Regions from separate parts of the Homo sapiens genome. Here region 1 is reported to be linked to region 2. The links are microRNA targets in miRTarBase. Many come from high-throughput screens and were not tested one by one. Region 2 holds a microRNA gene; the other region holds the end of a gene's coding sequence.

Evidence for each region. Region 2 holds the annotated microRNA hsa-miR-548as-3p (UAAAACCCACAAUUAUGUUUGU, at 3,054-3,075, opposite strand). A microRNA usually pairs through its seed, bases 2 to 8, with sites in the 3' UTR of a target mRNA and lowers its output. Matches are read on the target gene's strand: a 7mer-m8 pairs with bases 2 to 8, a 7mer-A1 pairs with bases 2 to 7 and ends in A, and an 8mer does both.
Region 1: the mRNA of TMEM9B is a reported target of hsa-miR-548as-3p. Seed matches in the 3' UTR shown: 7mer-m8 at 376-382 and 7mer-m8 at 661-667.

What each region holds. Positions count from the first base shown.
Region 1 is chr11:8,943,635-8,948,634 of GRCh38, reverse strand. It overlaps TMEM9B (TMEM9 domain family member B), which reads left to right. Exons shown (of 5, transcript NM_020644.3): 5 at 160-1,433. The coding sequence ends at 315. Among named protein-coding and RNA genes, the nearest start is that of ASCL3, 3.1 kb to the right of the region's middle.
Region 2 is chr13:92,487,906-92,493,273 of GRCh38, reverse strand. MIR548AS (microRNA 548as) reads right to left here and starts at 3,111; the gene lies at 3,054-3,111. The region is part of intron 7 of GPC5 (glypican 5); the gene reads right to left. The region is part of intron 1 of GPC5-IT1 (GPC5 intronic transcript 1); the gene reads right to left.

The DNA.
Region 1 (5,000 bases), not on the chromosome of region 2:
ATCTGGTAGTTGAGCGCTTAGGAGTGCTTAGCTAAATAGATGCTCTGTTGTTTGAAAAGTCCACCTACCCCTATTTCTGTGGCGGGCTGGTCACTGTTGTGTGTCTATGTTTTACACTGACTGTGCCATCTCTAATGTTCTCCATTCCTGGACTTTTAGGATCACCAGCCTTTTGCAAATGCACACGATGTGCTAGCCCGCTCCCGCAGTCGAGCCAACGTGCTGAACAAGGTAGAATATGCACAGCAGCGCTGGAAGCTTCAAGTCCAAGAGCAGCGAAAGTCTGTCTTTGACCGGCATGTTGTCCTCAGCTAATTGGGAATTGAATTCAAGGTGACTAGAAAGAAACAGGCAGACAACTGGAAAGAACTGACTGGGTTTTGCTGGGTTTCATTTTAATACCTTGTTGATTTCACCAACTGTTGCTGGAAGATTCAAAACTGGAAGCAAAAACTTGCTTGATTTTTTTTTCTTGTTAACGTAATAATAGAGACATTTTTAAAAGCACACAGCTCAAAGTCAGCCAATAAGTCTTTTCCTATTTGTGACTTTTACTAATAAAAATAAATCTGCCTGTAAATTATCTTGAAGTCCTTTACCTGGAACAAGCACTCTCTTTTTCACCACATAGTTTTAACTTGACTTTCAAGATAATTTTCAGGGTTTTTGTTGTTGTTGTTTTTTGTTTGTTTGTTTTGGTGGGAGAGGGGAGGGATGCCTGGGAAGTGGTTAACAACTTTTTTCAAGTCACTTTACTAAACAAACTTTTGTAAATAGACCTTACCTTCTATTTTCGAGTTTCATTTATATTTTGCAGTGTAGCCAGCCTCATCAAAGAGCTGACTTACTCATTTGACTTTTGCACTGACTGTATTATCTGGGTATCTGCTGTGTCTGCACTTCATGGTAAACGGGATCTAAAATGCCTGGTGGCTTTTCACAAAAAGCAGATTTTCTTCATGTACTGTGATGTCTGATGCAATGCATCCTAGAACAAACTGGCCATTTGCTAGTTTACTCTAAAGACTAAACATAGTCTTGGTGTGTGTGGTCTTACTCATCTTCTAGTACCTTTAAGGACAAATCCTAAGGACTTGGACACTTGCAATAAAGAAATTTTATTTTAAACCCAAGCCTCCCTGGATTGATAATATATACACATTTGTCAGCATTTCCGGTCGTGGTGAGAGGCAGCTGTTTGAGCTCCAATGTGTGCAGCTTTGAACTAGGGCTGGGGTTGTGGGTGCCTCTTCTGAAAGGTCTAACCATTATTGGATAACTGGCTTTTTTCTTCCTATGTCCTCTTTGGAATGTAACAATAAAAATAATTTTTGAAACATCCATCAGTGTATCTATCTATGTCTCCTAGTTTTTTCCTCCTCCCTCTTTTGCTGTATAATGAGATTGAAGATATAAAGACATTTTGTACCCTGTTCTGAGACTACTGTTTTATACCAATCTAACCGTAAAATATTGGTGTAAATTATGTGTTTGCATGTATAGACAGAATATATGAATTTGGGGGTGGATCTCTGAAAAGTATACTAATATTTTGATAAATTGGGAGATTTCAAATTCCTGAAGGAGTACTTGTTCTGAGAAATTCTTGGCCCAAAAAAATCAGAATTAAATTCATAAAAGTGAGGTTTTAGGAGCCATTAATGGGATTTTGGGGTTTAGTAAAATTTTAAGCACCTACAAATATATAAATTATCAATTTTATTGTTAGTATTAAAAAATTTAATTTCAACCATGACCAAGTGGGATTTATCCCAGGTATGAAAAGCTGGTTCAACATTTGAAAATAACATTTCTAAAGAAGAAAAATTACATGAATTTTATCAATAGCAGAGAAAGCATTTGACAAAATAACCCCATTCATGATAAAAATTCTCAGGAAACTAGGAATAGAGAACTTCAACTAGATAAAGAAATGAGCTAACAAAAAAACCACAGCTAACATCATATACTTAATAATGAGAAATTAGAAGCTTTCCCATTAAGATCAGGAATAAGGCGAGGACGTCTTCTCTTACTATTCCTTTTCAACATTGCACTGGAAGTCCTAGTTGTACTGGAAGTCCTAGCCAATGCAGTGAGACAAGAAAAGGAAATAAAAGGTATAAATATTGAGAAGGAAGGAATAGAACTGTCTTTGTTTACTGATGCAATGATTGTCTATGTAGAAAACCCAGAAGAATTGACAACAACAATAATAGAACTAATAAGTGATTATAAAGGCTTGCAGGATACAAGGTTAGTATACAAAAGTCAATCAAACCAGGTGCAGTGGCATGTATCTGTAGTCCCAGCTACTCAGGAGGCTGAAGCAGGAGGATTACTTGAAGCCAGGAGTTTTGAGGCTGCAGTGAGCTATGATTGCTGCATGAATAGCTACTGCACTCCAGTCTGGGCAACACAGCAAGACCCTGTCTCTAAAAAATGTCAACCGTTTTCCTATATATCAGCCACAAACAGTGGAATTTGAAATTAAAAACAATACTATTCATAGTAGCACCCCCAAAATAAAATACTTAGGTATAAACCTAGTAAAATGTATCTAAGATCTATATGAGGACAACTGCAAAAATGATTAAATAAACCAAAGAACTAAACAAATGAAGATATATTTCATATTCATTAATAGGAAGGCTCAATATTGTTTAGATGGCGGTTCTTTCCAACTTGATCTATTGATTCAATGCAATCCCAATCAATATCCCAGAAAGTTATTTTGTGGATATTAAACTTATTCTAAAGGTTATAAAAAAGCCAAAGACAGAATAGCCAACACAATATTAAAGGAGAACAACAAAGTCAGAAAACTAACACTACCTTTGAGACTTACTATAAAACTACAGTAATCATGACAGTATGCTACTGGCAAAAAAGACAGATCAGTGGAACAGGATAGAGAACCCAGAAATAGGCCCATATAAATACAGTCAACTGATCTTTGACAAAGGAGCAAAAGCAATACAATGGAGAAAAGATAGTCTTTTCAACAAATGGTGCTGGAACAACTGGACATCCACATGCAAAGAAATCTAGTTACATACCCTGTACCCTTCACAAAAATTAATTCAAAATAGATCATAGGCCTACATGTAAAATGCAAAACTACAAAACTTTCAGAAGATAACATAGGAGAAGATCTAGATGGTGGTGATGACATAGCTGATAAAGGACTGCTATCTAAAATATACAAAAAATACTTAATAAGGGACAAAAAATTTGATTTAAAAATGGGCAAAAGTCCTGGACACCTCACCAAAGAGGAGATACAGATGGCAAATAAGCATATGAAAAGATGTTCCACATCATATGTCATCAGGGAAATGCAAACTGAAACAACAATGGGATACCAATACACACCTATTAGAATGACCAAAATCTACGACACTGATAACACCAAATGCTCTCAAGGATGTGGAGCAACAGGAACTTTCTTTTATTGCTGGTGGGAATACAAAATGGTACAGCAACCTTACAAAACTAAACATACCCTTACTATATGGTCCAGCAATTGTGCTCCATAATAATTACCCAATGAGTTGAAATCATGTCCACACAAAACCCTGCATGCAGATGTTTATAGCAGCTTTACTCATAAGTGCCAAAATTTGGAGGCAACTAAGATTTCCTTTAGTAGGTGAACGGATAAACAAATTGTGATACAACCAGACAATGGAATAATCAGCGCTAAAAAGAAATGAGATTTCAAGCCATGAGAAGACATGGAAGAACCTTAAATGCACACTACTAAGTAAAGAAGCCAATCTGAAAATGCTATATGCGGCCAGGCGTGGTGGCTCACACCTGTAATCCCAGCACTTTGGGAGGCTGAGGCAGGCAGATCATGAGGTCAGGAGATCGAGACCATCCTGGCTAACGCGGTGAAACCCCGTCTCTATTAAAAATACAAAAAAAAAAAATTAGCTGGGCGTGGTGGCGGGCACCTGTAGTCCCAGCTACTAGGGAGGCTGAGGCAGGAGAATGGCATGAACCCGGGAGGCGGAGCTTGCAGTGAGCTGAGATTGTGCCACTGCACTCCAGCCTGGGCGACACAGTGAGACTCCGTCTCAAAAAAAAAAAAAAAAAAAAGAAAGAAAGAAAATGCTACATGCATAATTAACAACTATCTGACATTGTGGAAAAGGCAAAACCATGGAGACAGAAATATCAGCGGTTGCAAGGGGTTAGAGAAGGAGGAGGGATGAATAGGCAGAGCACAAGATGTTTAGGCAGTGAAACTATTCTGTGATACCACAATGGTGAATACATGTCATTATATACTTGTCAAAACCCACAGAATGTAAATGTACAACACCAAGGGTGAGCCCTAATGTAGACTATGGACTTTGGGTGATTATGTATCAATGCAGGTTCATCAGTTCTAACACAGTACCATAATGATGTGGAATGTTCATAGCAGAGGAGGCCATGCACACGTGGGGGCAGGGAGTGTATGAGAATTAGCTCTACTTTGTGTTCAATTTTTCTGTGAACCTACAATTGCTTTAAAAATTAAAGTTGGGGCCGGGCATGGTGGCTCATGCCTATAATCTCAGCATTTTGGGAGGCCAAGGTGGGCGGATCACCTGAGGTCAGCAGTTCGAGACCAGCCTGGCCAACATGATGAAAACCCATCTCTATTAAAAATACAAAATTAGCTGGGTGTGGTGGTGCACACCTGTAATTCCAGTTACTTGGGTGGCTGAGGCAGGAGAATCACTTGATCCTGGAGGCAGAGGTTGCAGTGAGCCAAGATCACGCCATTGCACTCCAGCTTGGGCAAAAGAGCAAAACTGTCTCAAAAAAAATTAAACTCGGCATGGTGCAGCAGTCTATAATTCCAGCACTTTGGGTGGGATTTCTTGAGACCAGGAGTTCAAGACCAGCCAGGCAACAAGGTAAGACCTCATCTCTATAAGAAATACAAAAATTAGCCAGGCAAGTTGGCTCGCACCTGTAGTCCCAGCTGCTCGGGAGGTGGAGGC
Region 2 (5,368 bases):
ATATAAATTAATGTACAATATTTAATGCTTGTCCCTCTTTAATGCTGAAAAGTTCTAATTTTAAATTAATGTGTACATGTCAATATATGAGATTCAAACATATCTCATGCAGATGAGAATTTTTAAAACATAATTTCTATAGAAACTCCATTAAAAAATAATGTCATGAACCTGTTGAGTCTGTGTTAAGAAGGAACAGCTGCACACTCAGGGCCCTGGAAGGGAGCCCTATCAGTGTGAATTCAGAAAGCAACCAACAGGCTTATTGTCATTTATTTGTGAGAGAACAGCCATTTGTTTGACATACTGAAGTCAGCCTCAGGGTGAGGCTGCTTTGTTCCACACCTATCAGATGGAAAAAAATTATTCCCCATCTTCCTGATAAGAAGTCAAGGAGAATTTTGAGACAGTCACTAGTGGATACAAATAACTGACTGGACAACAGTTGGAGATTACTAGGCATTGCATTTATAAAAAAGGCAAATTTATTTCTGAGATGCTAAAAATTGTTTCAAGATTCAACAAATTCATGAATATTCATTTTTATTCACCTGGCTTTCCTAAGGAAGAAGAACATTACCCTAGCATTGTGTTTATTTGATTGTTCTAGTTTTACTTTTTTGCTTATAATATCATCTCTTTGATTACATATTTACCAGGACATTTTTATGGTTTAGGGAATTACTTTCTTAAGAAAATTAATGTGTTACTTTTTTTGTTTTGTTTTATTTTTATTTATTTATTTCTTGATTCTGTATTTTCTCTTTTTTTATATATTTTTATTATACTTTAAGTTCTAGGGTACATGTGCACAATGTGCAGGTTTGTTTCATATGTATACATGTGCCATGTTAGTGTGCTGCACCCATTAACTCCTCATTTACATTAGGTATATCTCCTATTGCTATCCCTCCCCCCTCTCCCACCCCACAACAGGCACTGTGTGTGATGTTCCCCTTCCTGTGTCCAAGTGTTCTCATTGTTAAAAAAAAAGAAAAAAAGAAAATTAATGTGTTACTCTATTCAAAATGGTCTTAATTTTTTAAATTAAAAATCACAACATTGACATCATTAGAAATGTATATAATTTGTTAAAACATATACACACACAAAATGCTTTTCTTCTGCAAAATACTGAGTCTATACCTGCTTCTTCTATATGTATTGTTGCACAAGAATGATAAAATGAAAGGTTTTGAGGTCCAGATCACAGCATGCAAAAAACATCAAAGGGACAGAGTCTGCCTTTTGGGGACAGACTTAAATGATGTAGACTCTAGACTGAAAAGATAAAAAAAACTGTGAAGCTGAAGAAAGAATGATTCTGCAATTATGAAGGCTAAGGATATATTTCAACTGAATTCAGTTAACAAGAATCTCCTTTGAACCAACAGAGAAGAAAACTGAGGGCAAATAAAAAGAAATATTACTTGACATAGTATAATAATTTTATGAGGTTTGGTTTTCTAGTCAGAATTGACACAGTTTGAATTTGGAGTAGTCTGAAAAAAATCAACAGTTTGGGCATGTACTGCTTAATTTTTAGAGTAATATTCAGGTAGAAGACAGTACATTCGACAATATATTTCTTGTTGCTTGTCAGAGGCAAAATGCTGAAGTGGATAATCTACACGGTTGGCCAAGTGCACTAATTCTTATATTTTATTATGAATATAAGAATAAATGTGAAATCCCATTTATTCACAAAAATCTCCTGACCAAATGAATGTGAAGAACGTGCTGCCGATGTGTGTTGAGAAAATCTTTGCTTTACCATGAGAAAATATTGATCAAATATGTTTCTATAGCATCAAAACAAAAACTACCCATCTTAATATGTGTATAAAACATGAAAATGCCTATTAATTGCACATTTCTAAAATATAATAGTTTTACAAGTGTGTCAAAAAGTTGACTGAATTATATAAAGTAATTCTGGTTCTTCCTTTTCTTTATTAGTCCCTATTTTTGTGGACTTGAAGACTAAAAAAATCAGATCTTTTTTTCTGTATAGCTTGTAATTATGGAGAATGTTTCAAAACAAATTAAAATAGCACTTCACATATCAAGGACATCTCAGAATCATTTTCAAGTTTAAATTTTTAATTAACATGGATCTGATAGTAAACCATTAGCATAGGTTTAATTCTGAAATAATCAGCAATTGAGTACACATCTCCTGACAAGAAAACATAATAAATTTCTGATTTGTCACTAAGCAGAAACTTGGTTCCATATAGTAACGAGACCATCTGAGTCCTTCTCAGTTTCCATAGGTATCTGTCTTTGTTCTACCTCATTCTGTACCCCCTGCATGTGATGGAGTTGACAGTTATTCCTGTATAAATTTTACAAGGCTTCTTTCATGATAAGTACAAAGATTTCCACTGTAGTTTTCTTGCCTCCAATAATTAGCTTGGATTTATTGAACTACTATTTATACTAGTATAGGTTCAACCCAATATATCTTTTCAGTCAATTATTTTTAAGAAAATTTTTAGTTCATTATCTGTTACACGGTTAATTCCTTCCTATGTCCCTATGCTTTTCAAATATAAGATAATATTAGAATTAGTCATAAAAATGAAGAGGTGAAAAACACTTTAAAATTTACAAAACACTTTTATATCTTTTATATACGTTAGTCACTGTGACCCTAAACAGACCACTGGGACAAACACCATTTATATGTTTATTTTAGAACTCAGGATACTGAGGCTTACCAAAGTGTTTACTATTATACAACCATTAAGTGGTAGAGCCAGTCTTCCACCTCTAAAGGCTGGGTGGATACTTAATGTCCCTTTACAATGTATAGCAAGGATACTGATTAGAGAGCCATCATTTTTGATGAGGTTTTATACATTTTTCTACCTGTAAGTTAATCTCGTGTTCATTTATTTATTTGGAAAACATTAAGATTTTAAAATATGCACAACACTAAACATTAGGGACACTAAAAATTATTTCTGTTAGTGAAAAAATAGATATAATAATACAATGAAAAGTGGCAGAATCTAGACGATAATGAGATTGCTTAGGATCAGGCTGGTACAAACATAATTGTGGGTTTTACCATTAAAAGCAACGGCAAAACCCGCAATTACTTTTGCACTGACCTAATAATTCACAAAGAACCGAGAACAATTCAGCTTGGAGTTTTCGGGAAACAATGCGCTGAAAAGTTTAACTGCACATTATAGATAAATTTTTTAAAATGCACAAGAAGAGTATGTAAACAGACATTCTAAGAGGAAGAAGCACATGTTAAAAATAAAAACTTACATATAATGTTTAGGGACAAATATGTCATAATGAAGTTCCACAGAATCATTTAAAATCCTGCCAAGAAACTTGCCCTATATTTTATCCTTTTAGAAGCTGACTTTTTTTTTTTCTGTTTGCAATATGACCATATTTTTTGTTTTTTACATTCAACCAAGAGTTCCTTCCTGGCTTATGAATAGGTGAATCAAGCCTTAGTCCCAGCTCTGTCTGTACCTCCAACTACTGTAGATATTTTGTGTGTCTAGACAAACAAAAGAACGTGGTGATATTTCTTCATCCATACTGTAGGGAATGTGGAGAAAGTAAATTAATATTCTGAGTTCTTCTGAAAGTAGTAATGGCAAGCTTAATGGCAAACTCTAGGTGAGTTTCTGAGAGCAGCCCTGCCTCAGGTATCCACGTGGGTATCTCTCACTTCCTTCAGTTATCTACTCCAATACCACCTTTCGAGTAACCCTGTCCATATCCCTCAACTAAAATAACAACATCAGCACTCCATCTCATCTCACAATTTTTATGCAAATTACCTTGCCTAATTCTTCTCCACGTGTCTCATCAATATCTGACACATGATGTATTTACTGGTTTGTTTTCTGCCAGTATTCTGTTTCCCCGTTAGAATAGAAACTCCATGAGGACAGAGAATTGGTGAGTCACAAGATGTATCTCTAGCAACGAAGACATAGCCCTGCACATACTAATACTTGATAAATATGTATAGGATCATTAGATAAGTGAATGGACATAGGTAAAATGTACATGAAAATGAAGGATTTTTCTTAGTTTGGTGGTTAAATCATTATTCTGTGTCATTTCATCAGAGTTTAGCAGTAGACTAGCCACCTTGAATTTCACATTCTTTCTCTACTCCATGATGCAATGTATTGTCAAAGAGAGATGAAGAGCTTGATTAAATTATTATGTGCTGATTTGTGCATAATTGAGTCAAATAGAAAATAACTGATATATTAATATTTATATGAACATCTGGGAACTTGTATATAATTCTGTCTAAACTTGAAACCATTCCCCTGAAATTTACTTGTTAAAAAAGCCCTTTCTAATGTTTTATTTGTTAGTAACTGCCTTTATTGTCAAGCCTTTAAATGCTATTGCTATGTTAGCACATTGATACACATAGACATGAACAGTTTTCCGGAGGGCAGTTTCACAAGTAGAATTAATTTTAGTCAATTTCACTTTCAAAGCTTCAAACATTATCATGAATCAAGAGAAATGCAATGCCTGCAAGAAACCACCACCTACGACACAGTATCGCTGTGAATTCTGAGCATATGCACTCTAAATACCAGGTTTTATGTCATTGCATTTCCTGTCTGGCTTTGAATGAATTCTGCCTTACAGGACTATTAGCAAACAACAAAAATGATAGCACTTCACAAGCCAAGGAATAACTAACCTACTTAAATATGTCTTCCTTTTGGATAGATTAAAAATGCCAGCAGTTAAGCAGCTGATGTATCAGCACGTATGGCAACGGAGGGATTTTTGCAGGCATATGCACTTAATCAAATATTACTTTTCCCATCACTGCCTAGAATCTATGTAATTTAATTAACTTATGCTTCAGTGGCATTTTGGAAATGAAGTGGATCTGAAGTAAGCATTGGATAGGATCTACTTAGCATTCCATCACGGAAAAGTGATGCATAAATTTAAATCTTTCGATAATATTATGCTTTGATTTAAATTGGTTTGAAAGATTTTGGACTGTTTAGTAAGTTTGCAATCCTTAAATAATTAGTCACAGCCACGTTAGAAAAAAATGGGTTTTCATTGAGTTTTGATACTGGATTAAATTTACAAACTTATATGCCTGTACACACACACACGCGCACACACACACTCAGGCACATACGTATCTGGGTATGTATGTTCATGCATATGTTCACATTTTTATTGAGGTAGAATATGAAGAAAAGAGCAAATATTATAAGTATACAGTTTGATGACTTCAAAAATTGCACATAAACACCCTAATCAAGAAACAGAAATTCATCCATCCTCACAATTCCCTTCATATTTCCTTCCAATCACTAATCCTTACCTCTTCTCATCA